Linked DNA regions of Homo sapiens: all the other regions are linked to region 2. Evidence: fine-mapped expression QTL. A gene starts in region 2. Each other region holds a variant in brackets. All regions are shown on one strand. Distances are between the middles of the regions.

Region 1 (5,649 bases), 22 kb before region 2:
GTAGAGATGGGGTTTCACCACGTTGGCCAGGCTGGTCTCGAACTCCTGATCTCAGGTGATCCGCCCACCTCAGCCTCCCAAAGTGTTGGGATTACAGGTGTGAGCCACCGTGCCCGGCCAGCTTTCCCATTTCTAAAACTCCCCTGAGCTCATGGATGATGCTCATAGCTTTGAGAGCCATGAACTGCTGAACCTCTTGTGGTCAAGGCAGTGGGTGTTCGTTCATTCAACAAATATTTATTCAGGGCCTTCTATGTTCAGAAACTCTCTTTGAGGTACTAGGACATAGAGAAGTCAGACTTATGGTGCTTCTGTTCCAGTGGTGGGGGAGACAGATACCCAAAAAGGTAAACAAACACATAATATATAGTCAGAGAGTTATAAGTGCAAGGGAGAAAAATAAAGCAAAGTAAGAGATTGGGTGAGGAGGGAGATGGTCAGGGAAGACCTCTCTGAAGAGATGACATCTGAATGCAGTTGGGGAGTGAGACACACACACACACACACACACAGACTGGTGGAAACGGAACTGCAGGTGCAAAGGCACTGAAGTCAGGACAAGTTTGGTACATTTAAGGAACAGAAAGAAGGCCAGCATGGATAGAGGTAGAAAGTGATGTTGGAGAAATAAGCTGAGTCACATCAGGTGGGGCTAGGTTGGCTAAGCTAAGAAGCCTGATGTCATTGTGAGTGTACTGAAAGCCATTGGAGGGTTTTGAGTAGGGGCATGACCTGGTCTGATTTCCTTACAAAAGGTGGCTCTGGCTAGCTGGGGGGTTGGGGGTGCAGGGTACCCAGTTAAGAGGTTCTAACAGTGGTTCCTGTGAGAGATCATGGCAACCTGGATAGAATAACTGGAGTAGAGGTGACCAGAGGAGAGAGAGAGACTTTGGAGATGGGGTTGATAGGACTCACTAATGGAATTGATGTGGGGTTGGAGACAAACTCCTGGGTTTTTGGTCTGGGTAACAGGTGAATGATTGATGGTGCTGCTTAATGAATGAGGATAACTTGGCAGAGAGCAGTTCTGGACAGAACAGAAGGTATGGACAGTCAGGCAGCTGAGTATGACGGAGGACCAAGAGTGTGTGCGCCAGAAAGTGGTTATAACGGGCTGAGCGTGGTGGCTCACACCTGTAACATCCCAGCACTTTGGGGGGCTGAGGCGGGAGGATTGCTTGAGCCCAGGAGTTGGAGACCAACCTATGCAACATGGCAAAAGTCCATCTCTACAAAAAATGCAAAAAGTAGCCAGGTGTGGTGGCACGTGCCTGTAGTTCTAGCTACTCAGGAAGGACATGGGAGGATCACTTGAGCCTGGAAGGTCAAGGCTGCAGTGAGTCTTGATCATGCCACTGCACTCAGCCTGGACGACAAGCAAGACTCTATCTCAAAATAAATACATAAATAAATTTAAAAAGAAACAAACGCCTGGGTGCGGTGGCTCACACCTGTAATCCCAGCACTTTGAGAGGTCAGGGCGGGCAGATCACCTGAGGTCTGGAGTTCGAAACCAGCCTGGCCAACATGGTGAAACCCTGTCTCTACTAAAAATACAAAAATTAGCTGGGTGTGGTGACACACACCTGTAATCCCAGCTACTTGGGAGGCTGAAGCAGGAGAATCGCTTGAACCTGGGAGGTGGAAGTTGCAGTGAGCCGAGATCGCACCACTGCACTCCAGCCTGGGCAACCGAGTGAGACTCTGCCTCAAAAAATAAATAAATAAAAAAAAATAAAAATAAACACAAGACAAAATGGACTTTAAGGCAAACATAGTACTAAAGATAAAGTCACTTAGAGAATGTGCAGTTCACCAGCAACATATAATGATTCTAATCTTAAATGTTTCTAAATAATATAGCCTGAGAATATTCATAGAGCAAAAATTTGTTTTAAAGTTATTATAATGATAGGCTGGGGTTCTGGGATGAAGACGGAGGTGAGGTCACAGAAGGGGATGATGGACAGTGAAAGGTAGTCCCACTAGTGTGTTGGTGGCCTCAACTGAGCTGTTGCTGGAATAGGTATCCTAGAATTAGGGAGTGAGAAGGATAGGGCATGGTGGGGAGAGTGTGGATCCTTGAAATGGAGATTTAGGAGGTGGTACAGTTTTTGATAATGATGAGATCTGGGCTATGACCATGGGAGTGGGTGGCTGACATGTGGTAACAGGAGAAAATCACTGGGATGGAGTGAATGGCTCAGGTACATGGACCAAGATGCCACAAGCGTTGTTTGTGTTGCAGAACAAGATTGTGGACCAGTGTGAGAGGCTGCAGTTACAGAGTGCTGCCATCACCAAGTATGTGGCGGACGTCCTGCCGGGGAAGAATCAAAGAGCAGTGGTAATTCCTCTTCTTTCCTCTCTACTCAGCCCCCTCCCAGGATAAGGCCTTAGACTTAGGGACTTGGGCAAGTCTAGGGTCCCTTACCAACCTCACAGACTCATTGTGCTACTAGCAAAGCTTCTCATCCCTCAGAGACTCAATTTTACCATCTGGGCAGGGTGGGCTTGTTCCTGTACCATACTTGGTGCAAAGACTCTGCTAGCAAATGACTTTCTTGGGTATCTTGGCATAGGGGATCAAGAAGGGTCGTATTCTTCTACCATCTGGTCATTTTCTGCCCAGCTGCAGAATTATAAAATAACCTAGGACTTTTACATTGAATATTCTCTGTGACAATCTTATGAAGTAGATAGCAGTAACATCCCCATTTACAAATAGGAAAATGGGTCCTTATAGAGGTTAAAGAGGTTAACTGACCTGTCCAAGGACCCCATAGCCTCCTGGCAGTCGGTTCTGTGACCTGGATCTTCTGTCTCCTAGGCTAGTGCTCCTTCTGCTGCATCCCACTGCTGATTCTTTTTTTTAATTTTTTTTCTTTTTGAGATGGGGCCTCACTCTGTTGCCCAGGCTGGAGTGCAGTGGTGTGATCTTGGCCCACAGTAACCCCTGGTTCAAGCAATTCTCCTGCCTCAGCCTCCCAAAGTGCTGGGATTACAGATGCCTGCCACCATGAGTGGCTAACTTTGTAAATTTTTAGTAGAGACGGGGTTTTACCATATTGACCAGGCTGGTCTCGAACTCCTGGGCTTAAGCCAACCTCCCTCCTTGGCCTTCCAAAGTACTAGGATTACAGGTGTGAGCCGCCATGCCTGGCCTCCACTGCAGATTTTTTTATTCAGTGGACTCATTACCACTGCTGTGTCATCACTTTCAAGTATGCCTATCAGGGGCAGAGCCTATGAATTTCTTTCTGCATATCCCCTCCCTCCTTTCCCTATAGTACACGGAACAGACTTGGTACCACATTAGTCAGAGTTCTTTTAATTGCATGGAACAGAACCCAGTTGAACAAGTATAAGCAAAATGGGGCATTTCCTGACAGGACACTAGGGGTCCTCTTAG[G/A]ACCTAAAAGGGGCTAGACCAGGAACCAGAAAGCTGCTAGGAGTCCAGGCAGCTACTTGGTGCCCATCTATGCTTTGCTTTTGCATGATGGTCTCCATCTCCCTCCCCTGCCCTCTTCCCCTCTTCTTCTTTATCCTTTTTATTTTCTTGTCTTACTGCACTGGTTATGACCTTAGTACTGTGTTAAATAGAAGCTAGTGTGGCAAATCCTGGCTTTTTTTTTTTTTTGAGACAGAGTTTCACTCTTGTTGCTCAGACTGGAGTGCAATGGCGCGATCTCGGCTCACTGAAACCTCCGTCTCCTGGGTTCGAGCGATTCTCCTGCTTCAGCCTCCCGTGTAGCTGGGATTACAAGCGCCCACCACGACACCCAGCTAATTTTTTGTATTTTTAGTAGAGATGGAGTTTCACCATGTTGGCCAGGCTGTTCTTGAACTCCTGACCTTAGGTGATCTGCCCACCTCGGCCTCCCAAAGTGCTGGGATTACAGGCGTGAGCCACTGTGCCTGGCCCGACAAATCCTGACTTTAAGAGGAAAGCTACCAATATTTCACCAGTTATTTATTTAACAAATCTTTATTGAGCACCTACCATGTGCCAGATACTGTTGTTCAATGGGTTAGGCATTCTCCAGTGAACAAAACAGAAATTCCTATTTTCATGAAGCCTACATTCTTGTCACAGAAGAGGGACAGTAACAAAATCTATGTTATGTCCGAAGGTGATATGTGCTATGGGGAAATATAAAACAGAAAGGGGAATAGGACGGGTTGCAATTACATGTGCTGTGACCAGGAATGACTTCATTAAGAAGGTTGAGGCTGGGCGCAGTGGCTCATGCCTGTAATCCCAGCACTTTAGGAGGCTGAGGCGGGTGGATCACGAGGTCAGGAGTTCCAGACCATCCTGGCTAACGCGGTGAAACCCCGTCTCTACTAAAAATACAAAAAAATTAGCAGGGCATGGTGGCGGGCGCCTGTATTCTCAGCTACTTGGGAGGCTGAGGCAGGAGAATCACTTGAACCCGGGAGGCGGAGGTTGCAGTGAGCTGAGACTGCGCACTGCACTGCAGCCTGGGCAACAGTGCGAGACTCTGTCTCAAAAAAAAAAGAAAGAAACACTTTGGCTGCTATGTTTAGAAGTGATTATAGGCGGCAAAGGTTAAAGCAGGGAGACCAGTTAGGAAGCCATTGTAATAATCCAGGTGGGAAACAAGTGTGGTCTGGACCCAAGCAATGGTGGCAAAGCTAGTGAGAAGTGGCTAGATTCTGCATATATTTTGAAGAGGCAACAGGATTTGCTGATGGACTAGATGTAGGCTATGAAAGAAAGAGGGGAGGTGTCAGGATAATGCTGAAGTTTTTTTATTTGAGCAACTGGCAGGATGGAGCAGCCATGAACTGGGTGGGGGAAGGACTGCATGTGGAGTGATGGTTGGCGGAGGCAGGGAGGGGAGTGGGGGAGAGCAGGCATGCTAAGTTGTTGTGGGCATGTTATGTTTGAGATACCTATTTGACATCCAAGTGAAGGTGCTGAGTAGGTAGCTGCATATATGAGTTGGGAGAGGGCTGGGTTGGAGATATAAATTTGGGATTTATCAGTGTATAAATAGTATTGAAAGCCGTGGGAGAGGATGACATCACTAAGTGAATGAGTGTAGACACGAAAGAGCAGCGGTCCAAAGACTGAGCCCTAGGGCACTTCACCTCCTATTGAGAAGACAGAAGGAACCAGCGAACGGGGACCAAGAAATCAGCTAATGAAACGGAAGTAAACTAAGAGAGCAGAGTGTCCCAGCATGGGTTCCAAGGAGGTGGGAGAGATCACTGCTCTCAAATGGTGTATATTTATTTAACTATCTTATCACAGGCATAGATTCATGTGATTACTACCACAATTAAAATACAGAACAGTTCCATCACTAGGACTCCTTGTGCTACCCTTTTATAGCCACATGTACCCTTTCCTATCCCCTTGTATTATTAATACAAAATTTCTGAATTTGGATTGCTAATCTCAGTAAAGCATTTTTTATTTTTGTTTTAGGATTTTTGCTTGTATGCTCAGGAGTGAGATTAGTCTATGAATTTCATTTCTTGTACAGTCCTCATCAGATTTGGTATCAAGGTTATGTGAGCCTTATTCAATGGATTGGAAAACAGAACTCTTTTTTCTTAAGGGTTTACTTAAGATAAAGTTGTTCTTAGTTTTGATCAAAGTTGCCACAGGTTTGACTG
Region 2 (5,649 bases):
GAGCCCTGTATGCCTGCCTGAAGCCTTGTTCCAGGGCTGAGGGCTCCACCTCCAGCCCATGGGCCCGGGCCTTGGTGGCATAGGCCTCCCCTAAGGGGTGGCGGAGCCTGAGCAGCGTGTCCTTCACATCCCACGTCAGCAGTCGTATCTGCAGCCGGTGTGCCATGGAGGAGGCCAAGTCCACCCCAGTTCTGCCTCAGGTCCCACGGTGGGTCCCAGGGGAAGCTGAGCTGGATAAGACCACCTCTGCGCAACCTAACAATCACCTCTTTCCAGGCCTTGTGGGTCAGATTTGCTGGCTAACATGAAGCACTTGGGAAATGTCTTCACAGCACAAGATCCTAGAATGAAAAATAGCAGGTAAGGTGGAAGCTCAGGCCCTGACATCAGACAGACTGGGTTCAAATTCTGGTGCTGCCAATGGTGTGACCCTAGGAAAGTCACTCTGAATCCACAACAAATTTCTGAGCACCTTTTTGAGCTAGCTGCTAGCATATGGGATAGATTTCCAGCCCTTAGGGCATTTACAGGCACTGAAGAACAGGGATACGGATATTAGGCAAAGAACTATACAAACACTTAAATATAATGAAGTCAATAGATACCGTAAGGATCTAAATCCAGGGACCGCATCTAGTCTGTGTAGTTAGGGAATGTCATAAGCAAGTGAAGTTTCTTTTTATTTATTTTTTTTAATTTTTTTGTGAGACAGGGTCTCTCTCTGTCTCCCAGGCTGGAGTGCATGGCTCATTGCAGCCTCGATCTCCCAGGCTCAGTCAATCCTCCTGCTTTAGCCTCCCTAGTAGCTGGGGCTACAGGCACGTGCCACCATGCCCGGCTAATTTTTGAACTTTTTGTAGAGATGTGGGGTGGTGGGGCGGGGTGGGTCTCACTATGTTGCCCAGGCTGCTCTCCAACCCCTGGACTCAAGTGATCCCCCAGCCTTGGCCACCCAAAGTACTGGGATTACAGGCATGAGCCATCACTCCCAGCCCTGCAAGTCAAGTTTCAATGGAGATCAGAAGAATGAATGTGCAAGAAGCAGAGGTAGGTGAGTGCTCCCGTCAGTGGAAATAGCAAGTGCAAAGGCCCTGAGGCAGGGCAAGTAGACAGAGGCCAGCTGTCTGGCACACAGGACACAATTATTATGATTGCTATTATCATTATTAGGGATGTCAAAGACAGAAGGGGCCTTGCAGAGCATATGAACGATATCTTGGCTGCTGGGCAGAGTAGACTGAGCCAGAAAGGGGCAGGTACTTACCCAAGGTCACAGTGAGTCAGTGGCACAGCCAGGACCAGAACCCAAACTTCCAGACTCTCTGGCCAGTTCTTCCACTGTACCATGAGATATATTTGGATTTTAAAAATTGGTGAACCTGTACAGCACAGGAGAAAAGACAGGACACAGCAGGCTGTCTGTCTCTAGCCCTCTCTGAACCCCAACTTTTCCATCTTTACTGGAGGTAATAACACTGGCCTAGGAGGAGAGCTGATGAGAGAACTGACTCAAGGCACAAGAAACAAGTGACTCAGCCTGCTATCCAGAGGCTGGTGCAGCTTCTTTCCCCAGACAGAGCTGATCCCAGACAAGGCCGTCCCCTTGAAACCTGAGGGGCCAGAGTTCAAAGTACGGCTAAGTTGATACTTAGGGAAGGGCGTCACTGGTAAATCTGGGGGAGCCTTGGAGGAAGTTTGTCCAGGAAATGAATTAAGGAGACTCATCCAAAGATCCTCTCATTTTGCAGGTGGGTAGACAGAGACCCAGTGAGGGGCAGTAATTTACCCCCAAATCACACAGGGAGTCACATTGGCACAGCTAAGACTAGAGCAGAGGGCTCTGGCTCCTGACCCACGGCTTTTTTTTTTTTTTTTTTTTTTTTTTGAGGCGGAGTTTCGTTCTTGTTGCCCAGGCTGAAGTGCAATGGCGCGATCTCGGCTCACTGCAACCTCCGCCTCCCAGGTTCAAGCGATTCTCCTGCCTCAGCCTCCCAAGTAGCTGGGATTACAGGCATGCGCCACCATCCCCGGCTCCTTTTTTTTTTGTATTTTTAGTAGAGACGGGGTTTCTCCATGTTGGCCAGGCTGGTCTCGAACTCCCGACCTCAGCCTCCCAAAGTGTTAGGATTACAGGCGTGAGCCACTATACCCGGCCGGCTTTTTTTCTTTTTTTTTTTTTTTGAGACAGAGTCTCACTCTGTCACCCAGGTGTACAGTGGTGCGATCTCGGCTCACTGCAACTTCCGCCTCCCGGATTCAAGCGATTCTCCTTCCTTAGCCTCCAGAGTAGCTGGGACTACAGGCGCGCGCCACCACACCTGGCTAATTTTTGTATTTTTAGTGGAGACGGGGTTTCAACTATGTTAGCCAGGCTGGTCTCGAACTCCCGAACTCGTGATCCTCCCCCGCCCCACCCCGCCCCCCGGCCTCCCAAAGTGCTGGGATTACGGTAAAGGCGTGAGCCACCGCGCCCGGCAGGGCTTTTTCGATTTCTAAAACCGCGGGTTTGGGGCTCTGCGCTGCAGGCACGAACTGCTCACCTTTTCTCCCCACCTCCAGGGCTCGGGAAAGGCGAAGTCCAGGAGCCCGGACCTGACGCAGAATGTCTATAGCTGCCGTCGGCAGCGTGAGCTGGGGCGGCGGTCCTAGGGGCCTTGGCCGCGGCCGACCCCTTGGGTCCCCTTCTCAGCTGTAGGGCGTCCACGGCTCCGGGCCGGTTCCTGGGCCCAGGACCCACCTGACTCACAAGGAAGCAGATTGAAAACGCAGCCGCAAGGCCCGCGAGCTCGGGCGGAGGTGCGCAAGCGCCGGGCGGTGGGGCGGGGATCGCGCGGGCCGCCCCTCCCTACCATCCCGACCCGCCTCTGTCCCCGCCCCGTCCCCGCCCTTATCCCCCTCACCTTCGCCCTCTCCCGCCCCATCTCCCGTCGCCCTCGCCGTCCCCTCTCCCTCCTTCGTCTCACTGTGCACCTCTCTGCGCCCCTGTCACCCGCCTTCACTGCGCGCCTCCGTTACCCTGCACCATCTACGCCCCTTATTCCCTCCCCGCACCCTCTGAGGTTCCCCAGCCCGCACCCTTCCGCTCCGCAGCCCCCGTTACCAGCACCTTCTCCGCCCTGTCTGCGCACCCCCTGCCCGCCACACCGCCGCTCCTCACCGCTGTCTCCGCTCCCCATCCCCAACCCCGGCTCCTGGCCTCCTTTGGATCGGGAAACCCCCGAGAAGTACCCAGGTTGAGTGGGAGGAGGGGAGTTGGGACCCAGCCTGGCTTGCTTAGTGTTGTGTGAACCTGGGCAAGGCCCAGCCCCTCTCTGGTCTCAGGGTCCCCAGTTGGTATTGGAGGGAATTGCTTTCAGTTGGAAACTTGTTAAATCCAAGATAACTTGGTGAGGGTAGAGTCCGCTGCAGTAACCTGCTTTTTTATTCTTTCTCTTTTTTTTTTTTTGAGACGGAGTCTCCCTCTGTCGCTCAGGCTGGAGTGCAGTGGCGCGATAGCCCACTGCAACCCCCGCCTCCCAGTTTCTTGCGATTCTCCTGCCTCAGACTCCCCAGTAGCTGGGATTACAGGTGTGTGCCACCACACCCAACTAATTTTTGTATTTTTAGTAGAGACAGGGTTTCGCCGTGTTGGCCTGGCTAGTCTTGAACTCCTGACCTCAGGTGATCCGCCCACCTCAGCCTCCCAAAGTGCTGGGATTACAGGCATGAGCCACCGCACCTGGCCTCTTTTTGTTTTTAAGAACCCTGTGGTACCATCCTGGCTAACACGGTGAAACCCTGTCTCTGCTAAAAATACAAAAAATTAGCCGGGCATGGTGGCAGGTGCCTGTAGTCCCAGCTACTCGGGAGGCTGAGGCAGGAGAATGGCATGAACCCGGGAGGCGGAGCTTACAGTGAGCCAAGATTCTGCCACTGCACAATATTTGCCTGGGCAAAGAGCGAGACTGTGTCCCCAAAAAAAAAAAAAAAAAAAAAGATCCCTGTGGTAAGAGCCTGGAATCCTAACCACTAGACCACCAGGGAGCTTTTTTATTCTTTTGAAGAATAAAAAAAGAGTTTTATCTTTGTTTGCAAAAGTAATGTATGTTGGCTGGGCGCGGTGGCTCACGCCTGTAATGCCAGCACTTTGGGAGGCTGAGGTGGGTGGATCACCTGAGGTCAGGAGTTCAAGACTAGCCTGGCCAACACGGTGAAACCCCGTCTCTACTAAAAATACAAAATTAGGCGAGGTGGTTCATGCCTGTATTCCCAGCTACTTGGGAGGCTGAGGAAGGAGAATCGCTTGAACCGGGGAGGTGGAGGTTGCAGTGAGCCAAGATCAGGCTACTGTATTCCAGCCTGGGTAACAAGAGCAAAACTCCATCTCAAAAAAATAAAAAAATAAAAAAATAATAAATAAATAAGGTATGCATGTAATGCATGTTAGTCTCAAAAAACTAAAAAATACAAACATATGAGAGTTGGCCATGCAGAGGGGAAGGATCTGAGTGATGGTTAAGGGACCCCCTGATGCAAAGGCCTCCAGGCAAGAAAGTTTTTTTTCCGAACCAAAGAGACACTGAGGAACTATAGGAATGTTGCTAGCCAGGGGGTTTGGGCCAAAGAGGCTGGGGAGGTACCGGAGGGGAAGCTTTGAGATACTTCTGTGCCTGTGCTCTGTTCCTCTTTAGTCTCATCACCTTGCACTATGACCTTAGGCAAGACAGGTCATAAGACAGCCCCCACCACCCAGGCCCCTTTGAGAGGGTCTTGCCGCATACCCTGGAGGAAGGAACACTGCACAGAGAGGCCAAGAAGAATCTACACAGATGGGTCTTGGTGGGTTTCTCTATTCAGTCTATTAGCGTTTTGTGCAATCCTGTTTCTACATGTGAAGGGGTGGCCTGCCCCTCCACACCTGTGGGTATTTCTCATCAGGTGGGACGAGAGACTGAGAAAAGAAATAAGACACCGAGACAAAGTATGGAGAAAGAACAGTGGGCCCAGGAGACCGGCGCTCAGCATACGGAGGACCTGCTCTGGCACTGGTCTCTGAGTTCCCTCAGTATTTATTGATTACTATTTTCACTATCTCAGCAAGAAGAATGCGATAGGAGAGCGGGCTGATAGTGAGGAGAAGGTCAGCAAGAAAACATGTGAGCAAAGGAATCTGAGTCACAAATAAGTTCAAGGGAAGGTACTATGCCTGGATGTGCACACAGGCCAGATTTATGCTTCTCTCCACCCAAACATCTCAGTGGAGAAAAGAATAACAAAGCAGCATTGCTGCCAACATGTCTCGCCTCCCGCCACGGCGCGGTTTTTCTCCTGTCTCAGAATTGAACAAATGTATAATCGGGTTTTATACCGAGACGTTCAGTTTCAGGGGCAGGCAGGAGACAGAGGCCTTCCTCTTATCTCAACTTCAAGAGGCCTTCCTCTTTTACTAATCCTCCTCAGCACAGACCCCTCGCGGGTGTCGGGCTGGGGGACGGTCAGGTCTTTCCCATCCCACGAGGCCATATCTCAGGCTGTCACATGGGGAGAAACCTTGGACAATACCAGGCTTTCCAGGGCAGAGGTCCCTGCGGCTTTCCGCAGTGTATTGTGCCCCTGGTTTATCGAGAATGGAGAATGGCGATGACTTTTACCAAGCATACTGCCTGTAAA
Region 3 (5,649 bases), 29 kb before region 2:
TAAAAAAGATCCAAGCCAAATGTTATAAATGAGCAAGTGAAAGGGCAGGTTAGAGAGCAGGTTGTACACATAATCCCAATTTTGTAAAATAAATATGTTCCAGCTTGTATCATATAGTGGGAGCTAATGAATGCTTTAACCTATGTGTGAGGACCTGTAAGTATATTTGTAGCAGTTTTTCACACATTGTAAATCGTGTGAGGTTCTTTGAAGATTGGGGAGCAGAGTTCATGGTACAGAAAGACATCTTGCACTTGCTAGTCCTCTGTCTGGAAATCTCCTCCCCAGATGTTTTCATGCCTTGCTTCTTCCAGTGCCACTTACCTGAGAGGACTTCTACACCATCCTTTCTACACCAGCACCTCCATCATGCTCTTTTTCTTGTAATACTTGAATCTTTTTCATAGCCCTTATCATTACTGACATTATATTACATATCCATTTGTTGCATTTTATTTGTGCATGAAAGTAGACTTTGTTCTTCTTGACTGTTGTATCCCCAGTGTCTAAGGCCTGGCACATTGGCAGGGGCTCAATAAATCTGTTGAATGACTAAAATGTAACAATGGTGTCCATTCTTCTCTCCCTAGCTCAGAGTGCCTGAAGTTCAAGTACAGCCCTGCCTATGCCCATGAAGCCTCCAGAGGTCCCCTAAGAGCTCTAAGCAGCTTTCAAATTTTTTTGACCTCATAAAGAAGTACATTCATTCTCCACGGTGCATATGTACGTATATATAGGCCAAAGACAAAATTACAACAAATGTAGTTGAGTGATCTTATTGGCTTTTATTAGCACTTCTAGAATCAGGCAACACCTAATTCTATAAAACAGAATGTTCCAATGAGCTGAACAGAGGACATGGGCTTTATAGGTAGAAAAGAGCTGGAAAAAAAAAGAGGATTACTCATTTCAAAGTTACTTTCCTTTTAGGGTTAAAACAGAGAGGACTTCCTTATCATGCCAGCTAATTCTGTACTGTTTGGGGATTTTAATATGCTCTCTCTTTCTCTTTTTCTCTCCCAATTTCTTGGAAGTTCAGATAAACTACTTAGTTTTGGTTTGGTGAAGTGGCAGTTTAGCATGAGTAACTCCATTTTGTTTTGGTTTGGTATGGTGGGGCCTAGTGTGGAAGCCCAGTCCAAAACAACGACCTTCCATCCATTTTGTTTACCTATATATATGTAATTGAAACAACAAAAACCTTACTAAGAGCATGTTTTCTGTTCTTTATTCTTTTCTTTTTTTCTCTTTTGGAGACAGAGCCTCACTCTGTCACCCACCACCCAGGCTGGAGTGCAGTGGTATAGTCTCTGCTCACTGCAACTTCTGCCTCCCGGGTTCAAGTGATTCTTCTGCCTCAGCCTCCCAAGTAGCTGGGACTACAGGCATGTGCCATCACGCCTGGTTAGTTTTTGTATCTTTAGTAGAGACGGAGTTTCACCATGTTGGCCAAGCTGGTCTCGAACTCCTGACCTCAGGTGATCCACCTTCCTCAGCCTCCCAAAATGCTGAGATTACAGGCGTGAGCCATTGTGCCCAGCCTTTTCTTTCTTTTTATAAAAGATGCTGATCTCCACCCCTTGAATTTCTTGATATGCCACCTAATAAAGGGTTGCCACTGCCTTAGGGCAGTGTTTCTAGAAACAGTCAAGGGGCTCCTTTGCATCCTAGTCAAGGAGTGACTGCCACAGATGCAGCTTCTTGGCTTCATCCCAGACTTAATGGATGAAAATCTTACCGGAAAGTCTGCGTGTTTTACAACTCCTCCTCTTTCCCCTCCTGACCATCCCCTGTCCTCCAACGATTCCGAAGCCTGATAAAGCTTAAGAGCTATAACCGGGGAGTTTATGAGTATCCCAGATGTGTCCTGCAGGGCTTGATGAACAGATAGGGAAAGGGCGATTCTCCAGTTCCAGTCCAACTTGGCTCATAAGTGGTGAAACAGAGGAACCCGACTTGATAAAAGTAAATCTACTCCTACCTTAGCCCTTTGCATTTGCTGATGCCACTACCTGAAAGTAATTCTGGTGATTTAGGGGCTGTTTTCCAGATCCTGGACCTGGTAGGGCCAATGACTGCTCTAGGGCCACACCCAGTGAAGGCCCCCCTCCCCCCCCCCCACCTTTCCCTAAGGATTTTAACCCTTGTTCCTCCCCCTGCCCTCCACAACCTCTTTTCTTTCTTTTCTTTTCTTTTCTTTCTTTCTTTCTTTTTTTTTTTTTTTGAAACAGAGTGTTGCTCTGTTGTCCAGGCTGGAGTGCAGTGGCG[C/T]GATCTCAGCTCACTGCAACCTCCACCTCCTGGGTTCAAGCGATTCTCATGCCTCAGCCTCCCCAGCAGCTAGGATTACAGGTGTGCACCACCATGCCCGGCTAATTTTTGTGCTTTTAGTAGAGACGGGGTTTCACCATGATGGCCAGACTGGTCTCGAACTCCTCAAGTGATCCGCCTGCCTCAGCCTTCCAAAGTGCTGGGATTACAGGCATGAGCCACTGCTCCTGGCCACACAACCTCTTTTCTTTTTAGCCTTCACACAAAAAGCACCTCCTATTTTCTTTGTTTTCACCATAGGGTTTAATAATTCCCCATCCCCAGTCCTTAGAAGGAAAAAATTCTAACCACAATCTCTAATTACCATGGCCTATTTCCCTCCCCACCCCCAGAGGAGTGTAGATGCTGTTATGAGGCCATCACCCTCCCACTGGGATGCACTGGAAACTTCTTTAGATGCCAGGAAAGCAGCACCCCTGTCGCCAAAGAACCTCACACAATTTACATTCTGAAACCTGCTACAACTGTATTTACAGATCCTCACACATATAATAAAACCTTTTATTATCCCCTACTGTATATCAGACACCCAAAGTAAATACTTTGTAGACAAGATCTCATTTCATTCTTGAAGTAGCCCTCTAAGGTAGATGATAGTATTATTATCACCTCTGTTGTAGAGATAAGAAAACAGACACAGAAGCTGTGAGTAACCTGACCAAGATCCCATAGCTGTAAGCTGCATAGCTGGGATGAAACCAATGACTATATTTCACTCAGTGTTCTCTCTAATCATATGGTGTAATATTGTCTATCTGGGGTGACAATGTGTCCCCATTGGATGATGACACCACTGTGTACCGCTCTGGGTAGCTCTGGGGCTGTTAGCTGCCCTTACCCCTCAGGTGCTAAAGCAGTAGTGGCTGAGAAGGAAAGGGTTCTATCTCCTTTGTGTGGCCATTGCTTAGAGAAGCTTCAGAGTAGAGGTGCTAGAGCCCCTGTGAGCTATGGGATGTAATGTTTCTCTTTCGGTTTAGCTCCCGCCTGTGTTCAGTTCTGATGCACTCAGAGTACTCTCTGACACCTGAAGGCCTGGGCCCTTCCCCTTTTGAGAGAGTGCCCAGCTTTCTGCCAAGACTCCTAAGAAAGAATTTGGGGTTGGTGGCCGGGCGCGGTGGCTCACACCTGTAATCCCAGCACTTTGGGAGGCTGAAGGGGGGAGATGGCTTGAGCCCAGGAGTTTGAGATCAGCCTGGGCAACATGGCAAAACCCTGTCTCTACGAAAAATACAAAACTTAGCTGGGCACGGTGGCATGTGCCTGTAGTCCCAGCTACTCAGGAGGCTGAGGTGGGAGGATCACTTGAGCTGGGGAGGTCGAGGCTGCAGTGAGCTATGATTACACCACTGCACTCCAGCCAGGGTGACACAGTGAGACCCTATCTCAAAAAAATAAAAAAAAATAAAAAAAAAAAAGAAGAAGAAGAATTTAGAGCTGGAGAGCAGCGTTCTCCTTGTATGCCCAGACAGACTAGACTGGATCCCCAGCAGAGGGCTCAATCTGGGCTCAGACTAATATATAAGATCCTGAGGGTGGGAAAAGCCCTAAACAGCTCAGGAACATGTTAGCAGTTTTTCTTTCTGGGGTGGGAGTGGGTGGATTTTTCTTCCACATGCTTATTTGCATATTTTGTTTTCTTCGAAATAAAAAGGCATTACTTTTTTTCAATGCTAGTTTAAAAAGAAAACTCAAATATTCAAATTCAAAAAGTTTGGATGTAAATACTTTGGGAAAATCAGCCTAATACAGATATTTCTCACTGGGCCTCAATGTTCAATTTAAAAAATTATTAATTATAGTAACCTTAAGTCACACTGCCTAGGTTCCAATCTCATAGCTACCAATTAGTAACTGTGACCCTTGGCAAGCCACTTAACTTCCATAAAAATGGGATCCTAATAGTACTTTCCTCGCACTGTTAGTAGACACTTAGCGATTGCAGCTGCTATGTTCCAGATATTGTTTTACGTATTTAGCGTATTTACTCCTCAGACGTCTGGGAGGCAGGTACTCTCACCCCATTTTACAGCTGGAGTTCCCACCCAGTGAGCAGCCAAACGGGATTTGAACCAGGCAGTTTCTCAGCAGAGCCTTGCTTGAAGCTAGGCATCTAAAGCTGCCTCTCAAAAAGGGCAGTGGTCGGGATTACATAACAGAACGCTTGCAAAGCTCTCAGCGAAAGCCTGGCACTTAATAAGTGCTCAATAAAGTTTCCTACGGTCACAGTAATATTTGGAGTTTTATGTTTGTTGTAGAACAAATACGCATACAATCGCGATTTCATTCAACAAGGAATTTAAAGAGACCTGCTGCCCCGGGCGGGATGGGAGCGCGGGTTGGGTGGGAGGAGGCGCAGCTGCGGGGCGCGCTGGCGCACCGGGAGGGCCGGGGGCGGGGTCAGCCAGGCCCCGCCCGCCGCCACCTGCGACAGGTGGAGCGCACGGGGCGGGCGCACGGCCATGTCCGCCGAGGGCGCGGAGCCGGGGCCGGGGTCCGGGTCCGGGCCCGGGCCGGGGCCACTCTGCCCCGAACACGGCCAGGCTCTGAGCTGGTTCTGCGGCTCCGAGCGACGGCCCGTGTGCGCCGCCTGCGCGGGGTTGGGCGGTCGCTGCCGGGGGCACCGCATCCGCCGGGCGGAGGAGCGCGCCGAGGAGCTGCGGGTGAGCGGGTGTGGGCGCCGGAAGGCGAGGGCTCCGGAGACCCCGGGCGCGCCTGGCGGGACCCGGCAGGGACTGGGGAGCCTGGGGCTGGGCGGACTCGACACCCGGCCCCGGAGCCTAGGCTCCTCGGTGGCTTTGGCTGTAGGACTAGGCGGTTAAGGGTGTGGCCTCTGAAGTCAGGCTGGCCTGAGTTCGAATCTACTCCCTGTGAGTCACGTAACTCTGAGCCTCAGTGTCTTCATCTGTAGTTTGGGGACAACAACAATAATAATAGCGCGTATTTATTAGAGTTGTGAGAAATAAATAAGATAGTGGGTAAAATGCTTAGCGATAAGGGGATCCAGGCTCCCCAGGCCCCTTCCATTGCTCTGTTGAGGAAGCTGGGGCTGGCATGAAAGGCTCAGCTGCTCCAGTTCTCAGCGCAGGGTGTGCCCCAGCTCCCGCCCCTGTGGAAACTGACACTGATAAAATCCAGCGCGACCGTATCCCTTAACCCCTGGACTCAAAGCCCCCCTCCTCCTTTCGCCTCTTCCCCCTGCTCCTAACCCCTTCTGGCTTCTGGTGCGGTGATCTCTTTTTCGCTTTCAGGATTGGCCTTGACTGTACTTCAGGCTGGTTTAAGGGCTTCAGCTGGATAAACGGTGGGGGTAGGGAGAATATC

What was found. PIP is the estimated chance that this variant, and not a neighbour inherited with it, causes the effect.
Region 1: its variant is the best candidate, but not a certain one, in a credible set for the expression of HDHD3 in caudate (GTEx, PIP 0.85).
Region 3: its variant is the best candidate, but not a certain one, in a credible set for the expression of HDHD3 in minor salivary gland (GTEx, PIP 0.54).

What each region holds. Positions count from the first base shown.
Region 1 is chr9:113,351,992-113,357,640 of GRCh38, forward strand. BSPRY (B-box and SPRY domain containing) reads left to right here. Exons shown (of 6, transcript NM_017688.3): 2 at 2,249-2,347. Among named protein-coding and RNA genes, the nearest start is that of BSPRY, 5.3 kb to the left of the region's middle. RefSeq lists a silencer at 525-574. The variant G/A (reference allele first, on the strand shown) is at 3,413.
Region 2 is chr9:113,374,189-113,379,837 of GRCh38, forward strand. It overlaps HDHD3 (haloacid dehalogenase like hydrolase domain containing 3), which reads right to left and starts at 2,798. Exons shown (of 3, transcript NM_001304509.2): 1 at 2,541-2,798; 2 at 1,265-1,379; 3 at 1-341. The coding sequence starts at 166. RefSeq lists a silencer at 2,650-3,169.
Region 3 is chr9:113,344,793-113,350,441 of GRCh38, forward strand. BSPRY (B-box and SPRY domain containing) reads left to right here and starts at 4,749. Exons shown (of 6, transcript NM_017688.3): 1 at 4,749-4,988. The coding sequence starts at 4,788. RefSeq lists silencers at 4,717-4,786, 4,817-5,096. The variant C/T (reference allele first, on the strand shown) is at 2,269.